Regions from separate parts of the Homo sapiens genome. Here region 1 is linked to region 2. The links come from fine-mapping of genetic effects on gene expression. Tissue or cell type: whole blood. Region 2 holds a variant in brackets; the other region holds the start of a gene. All regions are shown on one strand. Distances are from middle to middle.

The links. PIP is the estimated chance that this variant, and not a neighbour inherited with it, causes the effect.
Region 1: TOLLIP-DT starts here. The variant in region 2 is fine-mapped to the expression of TOLLIP-DT in whole blood (GTEx, PIP 0.90).

The regions. Positions count from the first base shown.
Region 1 is chr11:1,306,067-1,314,066 of GRCh38, reverse strand. It overlaps TOLLIP-DT (TOLLIP divergent transcript), which reads right to left and starts at 4,359. Exons shown (of 1, transcript NR_029409.1): 1 at 3,360-4,359. It overlaps TOLLIP (toll interacting protein), which reads left to right and starts at 4,435. Exons shown (of 6, transcript NM_019009.4): 1 at 4,435-4,601. The coding sequence starts at 4,569. RefSeq lists silencers at 2,615-2,744, 4,270-4,979 and an enhancer at 3,278-4,039.
Region 2 is chr11:1,284,380-1,292,379 of GRCh38, reverse strand. TOLLIP (toll interacting protein) reads left to right here. Exons shown (of 6, transcript NM_019009.4): 3 at 1,971-2,153; 4 at 3,604-3,756; 5 at 6,288-6,378. Among named protein-coding and RNA genes, the nearest start is that of TOLLIP, 21 kb to the left of the region's middle. The variant A/G (reference allele first, on the strand shown) is at 3,827.

The sequences.
Region 1 (8,000 bases), 22 kb before region 2:
TAAAACTACAAAACACTGATGAAAAAAATTGAAGATGATGCAAACAAATGGAAAGATGTCCCATGCTCACCGATTGGAAAAATTAATATTATTAAAATGGCTATACTGCCCAAAACAATCTATAGATTCAATACAATGCCTATCAAAATACCAACATCATTTTTCACAGCAATAGAAAAAACAATCCTAAAATATTTATGGAACAAAAAGAGCCCAAATAGCCAAAGCAATCCTGAGCAGAAAGAACAAAGCTGGAGGCATCACATTATCCAACTTCAAAATAAACTACAAAAGTATCATAACCAAAACAGCATTGTATTCATACAAAAACAGACACATAGACCAATGGAACAGAAGAGAGAATCCAGAAATAAATCCACATACTTACAGCCAACTGATTTCTGACAAAGGCACCAAAAACACACAGTGGGGAAAGGACACCCTCTTCAATAAATGGTGCTTGGAAAATTGGACATCCAGATGAAGAAGAATGAAACTGGACTCCTATCTCCCACCATCTGCAAAAGTCAAATCAAGATGAATTAAAGACTTAAAGTAAGACCTGAAAGTATAAAACTACTAGAAGAAAACACAGGAAAAACACTTAAGGACACTGGTCTAGGCGAAGATTTTATGGCTAAGATCTTAAAAGCACAGGCAATAAAAACAAAATAGACAAATGGGACTATATTAAACTAAAAAGTTTCTGCACAGCAAAGGGAATTATCAGCAGAGTGAGGAGACAACCTGCTGAATGGGAGAAAATATTTGCGAAGTATTCATCCAACAAGGGACTAATATCCAGAATATACAAACAACTCAACAGTAAAAAATCAAAAAATCCCACTTAAAAGTGGGCAAAGGACATGAATAGACATTTTTTTTTTTTTTTGAGAAAGAGTCTTGCTCTGTCGCCCAGGCTGGAGTGCAGTGGCATGATCTCAGCTCACTGCAACCTCTGCCTGCCAGGTTCAAGCAATTCTCCTTCCTTAGCCTCCCAAGTAGCTGGGATTACAGGCATGTGCCACCACGCCAGGCTATTTTTTTTTTTTTTTTTTTGTATTTTTAGAAGAGACAGGGTTTCACCATGTTGGCCAGGCTGGTCTTGAACTCATGACCTCAAGTGATCCACCTACCTTGGCCTCCCAAAGTGTTGGGATTACAGGCATGAGCCACCACGCCCAGCCTGTATGTCTTCTTTTTAGAAATTTGTAGGCACTCTTAATACATTTAGACTAACTCTGTCATATATATTGAAAGTGTTTTCTTTTTGTCATTAACCTTTTATTGAGATAAAACTTACATACATACATCAGAATGCACAAATCATAAGTTTACAATCATGTGAGTTTTGATAAATTTACACATTGGTATAACCACTCCATCCCAATCAAGGTATATAATCTTTCTACCACCCCAGAAAGTTCCCTCATGGTCCTGTCTAGTCAATCTCCAGTCCCTCACTTCCAACACACATAGATAACCACTGTTCTGAAATACATCGCCATATCATTTTGCAAGAAATTTCAATTGACATATAATTTTTTTTCTGTTAGCACTTTAAAGATGTCACTCCATTCACATGACTTACCTTCTTTCCAATGAGAAGTCTGCTATTCTAATCTTCATTCTTCTGGATGTAATGTGTCATTTTCCTCTGTCTGCTTTTAAGAGTTTCTCCTTGCTTTCTGTTATCAGCAGTGTGAATATGACCTGACTAAGTGTTTTGTTTATTTGTTTGGAATCCATTGCTTCCTAAATATTTTGTTTGGTGCCTACCATTAACTTGGAGAATTATTGGCCATTATTTCTTCAGATTTTCTGCCTCATTCTCCTTTTTTCTTCTGGAATTCTAATAATGCTTAAGTCAGATCACGTGGCTGTAAGCTTAGTGGCTTAAAACAACACACACTTATCTCAGAGTTTTTGTGGGGTAGGAGTTCAGGCACAGCTTAGCTGGCTTATTCTTGGGTCTTACGAGGCTATAATTAAGTTGTCAGCTGGGTTGCATTCTCATCTGGAGGCTTGACTGGGGAAGGATCAAAGCCCCCTCAGATTCCTGGCAGAATTTGTTTCCTTGAAGTTGTAGGAATTATGGCACCTCGCCTCTTCAAAGCCAGCAGCTGAGAGACCCTTGAGAATAAGTCTGAGAGCAAGATGGAGTCTTTTATAACATCAGGTAATCATGGGAGGGACATCCCATCACCACTGCCATATTCTGTTGTTTAAAAGCAAGCCACAGGCTCTGTCCACCCTCAAGACAAGAGGATTATTCAAGGATGTGAACACCAGGAGGCAGGGATCATATGTCTACCTTACAACCTGTCCACCCCATAGGGGAATAATATTAAGGCAAGAGCTGAATCTAGTGTTTAGCGGAGGTCCTGGTGGGAGATACAGATTTTAGGATCATCAGCATATGGATGGCATTTAAAGGAATGGAACTGGATGAGCTCACTGAGGATGTAGATAGAAAAGATGTGCAAGGACTGAGCCCTGAGGTAAGGCACTCCGATGTTAAGGAGTCAAAGTGTTACCAGTGTGCCCTGGCATCTTGTAATCTCCCAGGATAGAAATAAAGAGAGATCAGCAGACATAGCAGCGAGGAGAAAGAGAAATCTTTATTTAGCTTGTGCACAAGGAAGTCAGCACCATGAAAGGAAAACGGTGGGGGGCCCCGCCGCCAGGGGGTGGCACGTGGGTTAGTTTCACAGGGAAGGGATTGGTCCAGGCATGGATAGGAGGGGTTTGTCTAGTGCTTCTCAGTAGCTTTGCATGCTTCTTCATGCATTGCATGCAACATTCACATTTTAAATCTCTACCCCTAGGTGTGATTTTTAGCGTGAAAATGAGGAAGGGGTAACAATAGTTGAAGTATAAGTCTAACTGCACATGTGGGGCCCGGGGAAGTCCCTAGGCCCCCAAAGCAGGAACTTGTGGTTAATAGCTTCTTGGGTCTTGTGCTGTGGATTGGCTGGATGTTAAGCTACAACTTGAGGAAGGGGCTTTCGTTCTTTTTCTCTACACCCCATCAAAACAGGCAAGCGGCCAGGCTGCCGGTTTTAAAAGGAGAGACTGGTAACCGAGACCCAAAGATGTGGTCTTTGGGATAAGAGGAAAGTGAGAGCACATGGTGTCCTGGATGGGGAGTGAAGAAAGCATGTGTAGCAAGAATGACTATCGATTTTGCTGTAGTTCCCGGAGGACGAGGACTGAGAACTGACCACTAACAATATAGAGATCACTGACAAAGAGTTTTTAGTGGAGTGGTTGTGTTACCGGAAAAGGGTCCTGATCCAGACCCCAAAAGAGGATTCGTGGATCTTGTGGAAGAAAGAATTCCAGGCCAGTCCACAGAGTAAAGTGAAAGCAAGTTTATTAAGGCAGTGAAGGAATAAAAGAATGGCTACTCCATAGAGCAGGGTGTTCCCAAAAGCACGAGGAGGAAGGCGTCCACCTGGGTACGCTTGTTTATATGTAAGATAAAAGCCAAAAAACATCACGGGGGAGACGTGCTGTACTACCTGGGCTCGTCAAAGGATTGCCAATCTTTGCATAACGCCTGTCCTCCGCAAGCATCTGTATCATTATCTTTAAAGCGAAACTTCAACTAAGAATGCTTCTTGTTCTTAAGATACCCGGACATCGGGACCTAAGTTCCGGGTCTGCTGCGTAAAAGTTTATTAACCTGTTCCCGTGACCGTAAACGCCCGACTCCTGGGGATGCAGCCAGCGGGGTTCAGCCTCAGTTTACCCAGCGCTGTTCGAGCTGGAGTCGCTCTGGTTGGAGCGCCTGACCGCGAGGGCCGAGGTCAGGCCGGACTGGGGTTCTCCGGAGCGAGCAGGAGAGGAGCGGGGCTCCTGCGGAGCGGCGCGGCGGGGAGGCCGAGGGCAGGGCGGGCTCGAGCTCGGGCTCTTCTGGCAGCGCCTCCATCCCCGTTCCGTTCACCCGGCAGCCGCCCCGTGGAGGAACCGCGCCCCATCTTTAGCCCTGTGAAACAGAAAGGCCCTTCCTCCGGCAGGCAGCTGAGGGAAAGATCGCCCTGCAGGGGATGTCGGGCCTGTCACTGCTTTGTTGCGGGCCACAGTTCCCTCCCTTCTCCGAGCGGGTCGCACGTCCGAAGGTCACCCCCGCCAGGTGGCTAGGCCCTGTCGCCACTCGACAGAGGACCGAGGAGGAACCAACCCACTGCCCAGACTGCAGCGCCGCCACGCTAGGGCCCGCGCCGACAACCGTCATGACTGGGCATGCGCAAACGGCCCCGCCGGGAGCCATTTCGCCGGGCTGCAGGGCTCGAGGAGAGAGCAGGTGCGCAGGCGCCGGGCGAGAGGCTGCGCCTGCCCTACCCTGGAGCGCGCGTGCGCGCGAGAGCCGGAAGGGGCGGTGCCTGGCGCGGCGCCTGCGCAGTGGGGCGGTGCCGGGGGCGGGGCGCGGCGGCTGTCAGCTGACTGTGGCGGCGGCGGCCTCGAGGTGACAACTGTCTCCGTCGCAGGCTCCGGCGGGGGCGCAGGAGGTCGCCCGGCGCGTCACTGTCGGGTCGGCGAGCCACGGGGGCCGCCGCAGCACCATGGCGACCACCGTCAGCACTCAGCGCGGGCCGGTGAGGCAGCCGGGCGAGGGTCGGGCGGGGGCGGTGACCTGCGGTTGCGGGCGGGGCCTTGGGTCAGGGCTACTGCTCAGCTGCGGCTGGCGGGCCGACTCCGCGGCTCTCCCGGGGCACGCGGGGCGCCTGGCCGGCCGGAGGGGAGCGGCGGCGTCCACACCTCGGGGCGGGGCGGGCCGGACGGACGCGCCCACGCTGCAGGAGGCTTGAGCTCACCGCCGTGCCGGGGCAGAGCTTTGGGGAGGCAGCCCCGGGGGAGGGGGCCTGCGCCCGTTGTGAGCCCCAGATGGAGGCGGGCCCCGTGCCCCATGGTGCCCCAGAGGGAGGCAGGCCCCGCTCCCCAATGGTCTCCAGATGGAGGAGGGCCCGGTGCCCAGATGGAGGCGGCCCCGAGCTCTGACTCCCGAATGGAGGAGGGCCCCGCACCCTAATGGTCCCCCAGGTGGAGGCGGGCCCTGAACCCTAATGGTCCCCTAGATGGATGCGGGCCCTGCTCCCTGATGGCCCCCCAGGTGGAGGCGGGTCCCGCACCCTGATGGCACCCTAGATGGAGGCGGGCCCCGCACCCTGATGGCCCCCCCAGGTGGAGGCGGGTCCCGCACCCTGATGGCCCCCCAGGTGGAGGCGGGCCTGCACTCTAGTTGGTCCCATAGATGATGGCTGTTTCCTCTTTCTCATTTACACAGAGTGAGGGCAGTGGTGACCACTTCTTGGGCCCAATTGTGTCCCCGGTTAGTGGCCACCGTGCAAAACCTCAGTTTCTTCATTTGCAAATGAGAGGATAGGCGCCAGGAACTTCAGAGAACCTTTCCTGCTCTGAATTCTCTCCTGAGAGTTGCCTGGCAGTTTCTTCTATAGCATTAATATTGCAGGAGAGCTGGTGTAGACTGACTCAGAGATGATGGGCTCCTGGCGTGAGTGGCCTCCTGGCTCACTGTTAGGGCCTTCTTGCATTGCTGTAAAGGAATACCGAGACTGGGTAATTTGTAAGAAAAGAGATTTAATTGGCTCCCGGTTCTGCAGGCTGTACAGGTAGCATGGTGCCGGCATCTGCTCCTGGGGAGGCCTCTGGAAGCTCCCAGTCATGGCGGAAGGCCAAGTGGGAGCTTACACGTCACATGGCGAAAGCAGCAAGAGAGTTGGGGGTGGGGAGGTGCCACACACTGTAATGACCAGATCTTGTGAGAACTCACTATCACCGGGACAGCACCAAGCCACGAGGGATCTGTCCCTGTGACCCACACACCCACCCTGCCAGGCCCCACCTCCAACATTGGGGATCATAATTCAGCGTGAGATTTGGCGGGGACACAGATTCAAACCGTGTCACTCACTGAGGCTGGGCTGGGGCAGGCTGTCGTGAGCGGTACAGTTTTTATCAACAGTGGCTCTGAACATGCCGTGGGTGGAAAAAGTCCTTTTTCACGATGCTCCAAGGTCCCTGCCCTCGCGCAGCCCAGTACTGGACGTGGTGGAGGGGTCACCAGGGCTCCCCACCCTTAACACTGTATCCACAAGTCCTGGTGTTTCTCCCGAGGAGATAATTCTTCAGGTAGAACATTTTTTCTGAGTTTAGAATGAAGCCCCAGGTTTTGGGCATAGCTGCTTTTTCTGAGGACTTTGAAGGAAACCTCCTGACACTTATGAGACTCAGGTGTGGAGCCTACGGGTCGGCAGAGGTCCTGGACGGCCTCTGATGGCAGCGTCTCTACCTCTTCATCTTTACTCCACCACAGTGAGTCCCCGCAAGTTGCCGTGGCAGCCAAGTGCTCCTTTCTGCCTAACAGGAGACTCAGAGCAACAAGGGAACCAGCACCCTGCTGTTGTGTCCTCCTGGAGAGCAGGGGGGCATGGTGGCCAGGCAGGATGGCCCCTTCCTTGCTGTGTGGTCTGGGAGACATCCTCTGCCTCCTGGGAACTTGTTCCTCATCTGGAACCCCACTGGGGTGTAGGACTGATTTTGAATGCATCAGGTGCTGAGCAGGCAGGGAGCAGTGGGAGGCAGGCCCTTCCTGTTCTGAGGGGCACCGGCGTGCAGCGCTGTTACACCCGCGATGAGGAAGTGGGAGCGGCAGGAGATGTTCTCACACGCAGGGCCTGTGCTGGCAAGTGCTGAGGTGTCGTTAGAATCTCCTCTTGCCCAGTGCCTCCTGGGCTGTTTCCATCATGTAGACGAGCAGGTATTTCAGGGGCACCCCCGTTGACCGGTAAACGCATAGTAACATGAGGTCTGGCTCGGAGCTGCCAGGGTCTCTTAAGAAGGTGTTGTCAGCGACGGGGGTCTCAGGTGTTGCTTGGAGTACATGTGACTTAATCAACCAGCGCTACCAACTGTGGCGTTCAGGATGGCCATGATGCAGGGGACAACCAGGTGGTTCCTGCCACTGGGGTCTTCCAGGGCAGCACGGTAGACATGGCAGCACATAAGGACAGCTGAGCTGTGTGGTGACGGCCCGGTGGGTCTGTGATCTTAAGCGTCAGGTGCTGGGAGAGTTTGTAAATGGGCCTCACCAGGGCTGGGTGTTGGGGTGAGGACGTGACATCTCTCGGAGGAGGAATGGGAGTAGGGGTTGGGCTGGGAGGGCAGGGCACGGAAAGAGAGGTGTGGGGTCTGGAGGTGGAGAGGAGGGAGCCCCAGGGGCCGAGGATGGAGGGAGGCAGGAGCTGGAGGCCGCCGGAGGGTCCTGGGCACAGGAGGACTGGACTTGCCCTGGAGTTTACCGGCTCAGCGCAGCACTCTGTAAAGTGTTGCCTGGCACACGCAAGGCAGGGCCCGCCTTGGCACCAGCCTGCTTCGCTGAGCATGACCCACCCCAGCCCCTCTGAATTAACCCATAGTGGGCCTTTACCCAGTTACTAGCACCTAGAGGAGCCCTGCTTTTGCAGGATGTCTTGACACAGTATTTATCATGTCCTCTTTCTGTTACACCTGTGGTGCCAGAGAGGCAGGAGGTTAAGCAGGGCGCTCGCTCAGCTTTCCAGCAGAAAGAGATGCTCCCCAGGGTCCGGGGGCAGGACTCTGGCTCGGGAGACCCTGACTGTGGTCTAGCCGTTGCCTCCCCCTAGTGATAAGGGGAGACGGCAAGATCCCATGGGCCGTGAAGGAGCAGAGGGGCCGCTAATGGGGTCCTGGGAGGGTTCTTTTGTCCTTGGGTAGAGGGAGCTTCAGGGGCCCGGGTGGGTAGGTGTGGAGAGGACGTGTGAAGCTAGCCAGCCCGACATCGTTCTGAGAGAATCATACCGTGTTTAGATCTTCAGGATAATGGTTCCCTGAATAGCCACTAAGGGATGCTTCAGCCCTGTGCAGTGCTTCCCTCACGTTTCAAAAAGGCCAGTATTTTGGAAAGATAACCTTTTTTCAATATAGTCTGCATATTATCAGAAAGCATGGGTGAG
Region 2 (8,000 bases):
GCTTTGCTCAAAGCCTTTAAAGTTATTAATAAAAATAAGTCATAGCAGCTAGGCAGAGACAGCACAGTTACCTGAAAGCTTTGGAAAATCATGCTGGTCTCAGACTTTCCTGCTACATACTCTCCAGAAAATAGGGCAGTTGCTAAGGAGTTTACAGGGGCAGAGTTTGGAGTGTAAGAGCTGATCTAGCAGATGTGTGGGTGTGCAGCAGAAGGGAATTGGAAGCTGCTAGAGGCTGAGCATGCCTGTCGCCCAGGAGCTTCCGGAAAACTGTCACTCCATAGCATTCCGGAGTACGCTGTGGCCACCCAAGAAACACGCTAAAATTAAGGACCCAAGAATGGGGCAGTTTTGACCTAAAAGGACCGGCCACAGCTTTGATTAGAAGTGAAAGGAGGGAACTTGTATGTGGACAAGAATAGAAAACAGAGGACCTGGCAGTCCAGAGATGTGGGCACAGGAGGGGAGAGTTCAGCTGTGCGGCGAGGGTTGGCGTGGACGGGACAGCCGTGCCCTCGGGGGTCGGTGAGGACGGGGCGGCCGTGCCCTCAGAGGTGGGTCGGTGAGGACGGGGCGGCCGTGCCCTCAGAGGTGGGTCGGTGAGGACGGGGCGGCCGTGCCCTCAGAGGTGGGTCGGTGAGGACGGGGCGGCCGTGCCCTCAGAGGGGGGTCAGCGAGGACGGGGCGGCCGTGCCCTCAGCGGGGGGTCAGCGAGGACGGGGCGGCCGTGCCCTCAGAGGGGTGCGGTGAGAACAGGGCGGCGGTGCCCTCAGAGAGGGTTCAGTGAGGACAGGGTGGCCGTGCCCTCAGAGGGGCGTCAGTGAGGATGGGGTGGCCGTGCCTTCGGGGGGTGGGTGGTGAGGACAGGGTGGCAGTACTCTCAGAGGGGGGTTGGTGTGGACAGGTTGGCCGTTCCCTCAGAGGGGGTCGGGGGGCAGTGTCTGGACTCTGTTCCACTGGGAAGGAGGAACTGGCGGGCTCCATGTGGGTGGGAGGGCCGGGATGGCTCCCGGGGTCTCTATCACCAGCTCCTGGGGGTGAGCCGGGTTGGCTGCAGGAGAGCGGGTGGCAGTGGTACAGGGAGGCCGTCTGCATTCCAGGCAGGACGCTTTACAGGCAGCCGGAGCTGCAGGGCTGAACCCAACCCAGCTTACGAGGGCTTTTCTCCTGGTTTTTTCTTGTAAAGGTTTTACAGTTTTAGGTTTTATATTTGAACCTGCCATCCATGTTGAGTTTGTTTGCTGAACAATCATCTTACTTGCCACGGTCTTCTGTCTTATTCTGAACACACGTTCACTCCCACCCCGAGGACCTCAAATGTCCCTGCCCAGCTGAGCACCTGGCCTGAAGTCGAATCTCATGGTCTACATGTGATGTGGCTCCTTGTGATTGGGAGACACAAGAAAGACAAGTTCCAGTCCCCAAAACCCCACGTACTCCGATAGCACAGGCAGGGCTGCTGCCTTCACGAGGGAGGAAAGCAGCCACGTGGCGTCTGAATTATGTGCAGCAGGTGTCCTCACTCTCACCTAGAGCGAGGATGCACCTCTCCCGGGTCATCATGCTCCGGGGGCAGGTTCACACTCCATGTCATGCTCTGGCTCTCAGCTCTGTCCCGGGACCTCCTCCTCTTTCCCTCCTCAGCCACTTCTGAGGAGGGCATTAGAGAGTGCGCCCTTCATGGTGGGTGAGTGGCGGCCTCAGCTGTGTCTGTGAGCGTCGTAGGTTTCTGCTGTCAAGGACGAGCCACGTGCTTTGTCTCAGAACTGCACGATCCATCTGTGGCTCACTCTTCTTGCTCCTGGCCTCCTGGGAAGCAGGTCACAGCCGTGTTCAGGCGACTCTGAGTGGCTGTAGTCTATGTGTTAGGAAAAGGCCTCGTGGAAGGGTTCAGGGAGGCAGACGGCCTAGAGAACCCACCCTCTCCTGATGGTTGGCACCTCCTTTTCCTGACATTGGCTTCATTCCAGGCAAAGTTGGCCAAGAATTACGGCATGACCCGCATGGACCCCTACTGCCGACTGCGCCTGGGCTACGCGGTGTACGAGACGCCCACGGCACACAATGGCGCCAAGAATCCCCGCTGGAATAAGGTCATCCACTGCACGGTGCCCCCAGGCGTGGACTCTTTCTATCTCGAGATCTTCGATGAGGTGAGAGGGACGTGCCAGCTATTATGGAGGCTGCACGTGGCTGAGCGTGGCTGCCGTGGGGACACACCTGCCAACACAGCCACGTTCCTGGCTGGCTTCGAGGCGTGGCTCCCCACCTGGTGTTTCATTGGGTGCATGACAGGGTCCTGCTCTCCCCAAGGAATGTGAAAAAGGGATTGTTTCCAGCTCCTTGAACATACTTACATTTGGAAACATCCCCAGTGACAAGCATGACCCAGGGATACAGCGTGCACGTGTCCCCTCCGCTGGGCGCACAGGGTCTGGCCGCTCACCAGCAGGTGGGATTTCCAGGGACAGAGCGTGCACGTGTCCCCTCCGCTGGGCACTGATCTGGCCGCTCACCAGCAGGTGGGATTTCCAGGGACAGAGCATGCATGTGTCCCCCGCCACTGGGCACTCGTCTGGCCGCTCACCAGCAGGTGGGATTTCCAGGGACAGAGCATGCATGTGTCCGCCCCGCTGGGCGCACAGGGTCTTGCCGCACACCAGCAGGTGGGATTTCCAGGGACAGAGTGTGCACGTGTCCACTGGGCACTCGTCTGGCCGCTCACCAGCAGGTGGGATTTCCAGGGACAGAGCGTGCATGTGTCCGCCCCGCTGGGCGCACAGGGTCCGGCCGCTCACCAGCAGGTGGGATTTCCAGAGAGTGCGGCTGCCTACTGGGTGGGAAAGCTGTTCTTGGTGGTGCGAATGGTCGTGACCCTTGAGGGTCCTGAGTCCCGTCCGTGGCTGCACCTGCAGCGCTTCTGAGGCAGAGTCAGAAGGTCAGAGGGGATGTGGCGAGGCTGCTGCTCAGTGTGGTCCTGGCACCTCGCACCTGTGGCATTGTGAGGCTAGAGACTGGGTGGGGGCCGGGGAGCAGTGTGGGGCAGCCAGGCCAGCAGACGGCCAGCCCTCCCTGCCTGGGCCCTGCCTTTTCCTCCCGGCTTTTCTCTCCCCGTCCCTACCTGCTTTCCCCTCCCTGGCCCTCAGAAGAGTAGAGAGCGCATGGGAAGTGCAGAGTCAGCTGTGGGAGGCAGACCCCGTGTCCTTTCCAGTCTGCACCCCGGCTGCTCTGGGGCTTGACAGGTGGCAGCCGGTGGAGCAAGGATGGGGCCCCGAGGGCTGGGGAGGAGCAGCCAGTGTCCCTGAAGTGGAACTGAAGGAGGACAGCAGCCCAGGGCCCTCGCTTTCCCCAGCCCCAGACCTGGCCCTGGCCCTGGCCCTGGCCCATCCTGGTGGAGAGAGGGAAGAAGTCCCCTACGGAGGCTGATATACGATCGTGAAGCCTGCGCTGCCCGAGGGGTCTCATCGATGGGGTGTTGGTGCAGGTGGGAGCCCTGTTCCACAGATAAGACGGGGACTCGAGGCGGGCCCACGATGGTGCGGCTGCAGGGGCAGGGTGGCCCCTTCCCTGATGCCTGGGGCCTCTCCCTCTTGTCTCCCGCAGAGAGCCTTCTCCATGGACGACCGCATTGCCTGGACCCACATCACCATCCCGGAGTCCCTGAGGCAGGGCAAGGTGGAGGACAAGTGGTACAGCCTGAGCGGGAGGCAGGGGGACGACAAGGAGGGCATGATCAACCTCGTCATGTCCTACGCGGTGAGCTGCACGCCTGGGCGGGGTGGGGCGCATTGGGGTATGTTGGAGCACGTCGGGGCTATGCCGCCCC[A/G]CAGACACCCTTGTCTCTTTCCTGGAGGCACTGAGCCCATAAAACAGCAGGGCTCACGTTCTGAGGACAGAGGGCAGGGGCCCTGGGTGGTTTGGTGGCAGAGAGGGGCTGCCCTGCCCACTGCTCCTGCCCATGTTCTCTGTCTGGGGAAACAGCATAGGGGTTGTTTGTGTTCCTAAGATGAGCCAACCCTTTGTGGTGGTCTCCACTGCAGGCCCCTGTGTCCTCGGAGGACCCCCACAGCCCTTCCAAGCTCTGCCCTTAGGGTCCAGCTGAGCAGCCCTCCAGGGTCTGAGATACAGCCCTGGGCCCTGCAGGACACCAGGCTCCTCCCCACAGGGCAGGCATTGGCCGTGGTGTGGCAGGGCATCTCTGGAGATGTCGGGGAAGCCTGGGGGCTGCTGTGCTCAGGGTCAGGAAGTCGAGGCCTGGCTGTGGGGCCAGCACGTCAGCGCCCTGGCTCCCAGCCATCTCCATTCTCAGGGCACCTGCAGCTCCTGGGGGCATCAGGAGGGCCAGTTAGAGGCTCCAAGACGCAGAGCTCCTGCCGTCTCGTCTGTATCATCAACCAGAGGATTTTCAGGCTGTTACTGAAAAATGGTGCTGTGGGAAATGCCAGGCAGATGTGACAGCAGAGAGGGTGCAGCAGAGAGGGTGCAGCAGGGAGGGTGCAGCAGGGAGGCTGCAGCAGAGAGGGTGCGGCAGGGAGGCTGCGGCGGGGAGGGTGCGGCGGGGAGGCTGCGGCGGGGAGGCTGCGGCAGGGAGGGTGCGGCGGGGAGGCTGCGGCGGGGAGGGTGCGGCGGGGAGGCTGCGGCGGGGAGGCTGCGGCAGAGAGGGTGCAGCGGGGAGGCTGCGGCGGGGAGGCTGCGGCGGGGAGGGTGCGGCGGGGAGGCTGCGGCGGGGAGGGTGCGGCGGGGAGGCTGCGGCGGGGAGGCTGCGGCGGGGAGGGTGCGGCGGGGAGGCTGCGGCGGGGAGGGTGCGGCGGGGAGGCTGCGGCGGGGAGGCTGCGGCGGTGAGGCTGCGGCGGGGAGGCTGCGGCGGGGAGGCTGCGGCGGGGAGGGTGCGGCGGGGAGGGTGCGGCGGGGAGGCTGCGGCGGGGAGGGTGCGGCGGGGAGGCTGCGGCGGGGAGGGTGCGGCGGGGAGGCTGCGGCGGGGAGGCAGCAGCAGGGAGCTGCTTTTCTGGGCCATCTTGGCTCCTCCCACCCCCTTTTTGTTAAAGCTGGGATATTTTAAATCATGTCCCGGCCGTGAGTGACGATGTGTAAATGTCTCATGACACGTCTTTAACAGACGCTTTCATACAAACACAGAACCATCATGACGCTCCAGTGATTTTACCTGCAGTTGACAGTTTCGAACTCAGAGACGACAGTGGTGCAGTGACTTATCCGCAGTTGACAGTTTCGAACTCAGAAGACAGCGGTGCAGTGACTTATCCACAGCTGACAGTTTTGAACTCAGAGACGGCAGCGGTGCAGTGACTTATCCGCAGCTGACAGTTTTGAACTCAGAGGCGACAGTGGTGCAGTGACTTATCCGCAGCTGACAGTTTCGAACTCAGAGACAACCGCGGTGCAGTGACTTATCCACAGTTGACAGTTTTGAACTCAGAGACAACAGCAGTGCAGTGACTTATCCGCAGTGGACAGTTTTGAACTCAGGAGACAGCAGTGCAGTGACTTATCTGCAGTGGACAGTTTTGAACTAAACTCAGAGACGACAGCAGTGCAGTGACTTATCCACGGTTGACAGTTTTGAACTCAGAGACAACAGCAGTGCAATGACTTATCCGCAGTGGACAGTTTTGAACTCAGGAGACAGCAGTGCAGTGACTTATCCACAGTGGACAGTTTTGAACTAAACTTAGAGATGACAGCGGTGCAGTGACTTATCCACAGTTGACAGTTTTGAACTCAGGAGACAGCAGTGCAGTGACTTATCCGCAGTGGACAGTTTTGAACTAAACTCAGAGACGACAGCGGTGCAGTGACTTATCCGCAGTTGACAGTTTTGAACTCAGAGGTGACAGTGGTGCAGTGACTTATCCACAGTGGACAGTTTTGAACTCAGAGTTGACAGCAGTGCAGTGACTTATGTGAAGTTGACACTTTCAAACTCAGACACCACAGCAGTGCAGTGTGGTTCCCCCCAGGCCGACTCGACACCTACACTGGGATGTCCCTCCTGTCACCATCCTCTCTCAGTCACATCCCAGTTAGAAGGGGGTCTGTAAGCCCGAGCCATGTCACCTCCTGGATTTGAGGAGGTGGTGCAGGGGTGGGAGCAGGGCCCAGCGTCCCCTGTGCACTCAGGGCTCGTGTAGCGAGGGTGATTCTGGGCTGGCATGGGGAGGGCGATTCTGGGCTGGCGTGGGGAGGGCAATTGTGGGGAGGGCGATTCCCGAGGTTCTGATGGGTGGATGTTCCTCCTTGACCCCGGGACCATCTCCGCTGTGTTTCAGCTGCTTCCAGCTGCCATGGTGATGCCACCCCAGCCCGTGGTCCTGATGCCAACAGTGTACCAGCAGGGCGTTGGCTATGTGCCCATCACAGGTGCGTGTGCTCCCTCCCTGGGTGCCTCTCCCCTGGTAGAAACCCCAGGGCCTAGGGCAGGTGCGGGAGGAGGGAACGGGGCTTAGAGCGCCGGGGTGGGGACGTCATCCATTCTAGAATCCTGTAGACGTGCTGACCGCACACAGATCCTTTCAGGCCAGGAAGCCAAGGCTTACGTTTGAATTTTGTTTGCATATCTAGAAAATAGAATTGTTTTTTTTTTTTTTTTCTAATTGTTGGCAGAAATGAGGTGAGTTGAAATTTTCAGAGATGTGGAAATGTGGCTTTGAAACCCCGTTGTGCCCAGCTCTGTGCAGGAGAACCTCACGCCCCTGTCAGGTGACACGTGCTCTGCACTGTGCCGTCGTGTCCGAACCTCACGCCCATTGGGTGACGCGTGCCCTGCGCTGCGCCGTTGTGTCTGAACCTCACGCTCCTGTTGGGTGATGCGTGCTCTCTACTGCGCTGTTGCGTCTGTTGTCGTGTGTCACTGTTAGGAGTGAGCAGCCTGTGGCTGCAGCAACACCAAGCTGGGATGTCGCTTTTCATGCTGTTGCATTTTCGGTCCAGCTGTGACTGTGGTAGCTGCTGGTGCAAGACCGGCCCCCACCATGGATGGGCCCAGCCGTCTTTAGCAGGCGGGGAGACCGCAGCCCCTGAGAGGAGGTGCTAGGGGGGAGCCTGTGGTCACCCTGGTTCTCCTGCTGAGGTGGCCTCTCTCGTTCTGGGGAGCTGGTGTCCAGGCAGAGCACTGGTCCCTCTGCACGGAGGGTGGAGGCCAGAGGCCCAGGCCATGGAAGTGGCCAAGTTGCGGGCAGGGCGCTAGGGATGCGTGGTGGTGTTGGGGGAGGTGGTGTTAGGGGAGGGTCTCGGGGCTGCATGAGGCCCCGGCTGCTTGTGCTCAGGGGCTGCTTTGGGGTTGGGGCGGGACAGAGCTGCTGGCAGGCGAGAGTGCTGTGAGGCCAGTGCTGGTGTCCAGCCCAGCTGGAGTGGAGAGGCCTGGTCAGCACCCCAGTCCTGCCAGCATCCTGCACAGATGCAGAAAGGCCACCTTGGGAGTCGGGACCTCGCCCTAGACCCACCTGATGTGGCCTGAAACCCAGCCCTGACGATGGGAAGGAGGAGACGGCACTGGGAGACTCTGGGCTGTCCACTGGTGTTCAGGACATTCTCGGACAAAACTGCCTGTGAGAACAGCATGGCCTCGCCCTCACTTGCTCACATTATAGACTCTGTTTCCATGTGAAGCCGCCCGCGCAGGTGCCAGGGCTGCCTTTCTCCAGAGGAAAGAGCAGAGCGTGTGTCTGAGAGGGCCTCTGTGGTGTCCAGTGTCTTAGAAAACCACCAGCCTGGGGGTGGGTGTGGGGGCTCATGCCTCTAATCCCGGCACCTTGGGAGGCCAAGGCGGGCAGATCGTGAGGTCAGGAGATCAAGACCATCCTGGCCAACACGGTGAAACCCCGTCTCTACTAAAAATACAAACAAATTAGCCGGGCGCGGTGGTGGGCGCCTGTAGTCCCAGCTGCTCGGGAGGCTGAGGCAGGAGAATGGTGTGAACCCAGGAGGTGGAGCTTGCAGTGAGCCGAGATTGCGCCACTGCACTCCAGCCTGGGTGACAGAGC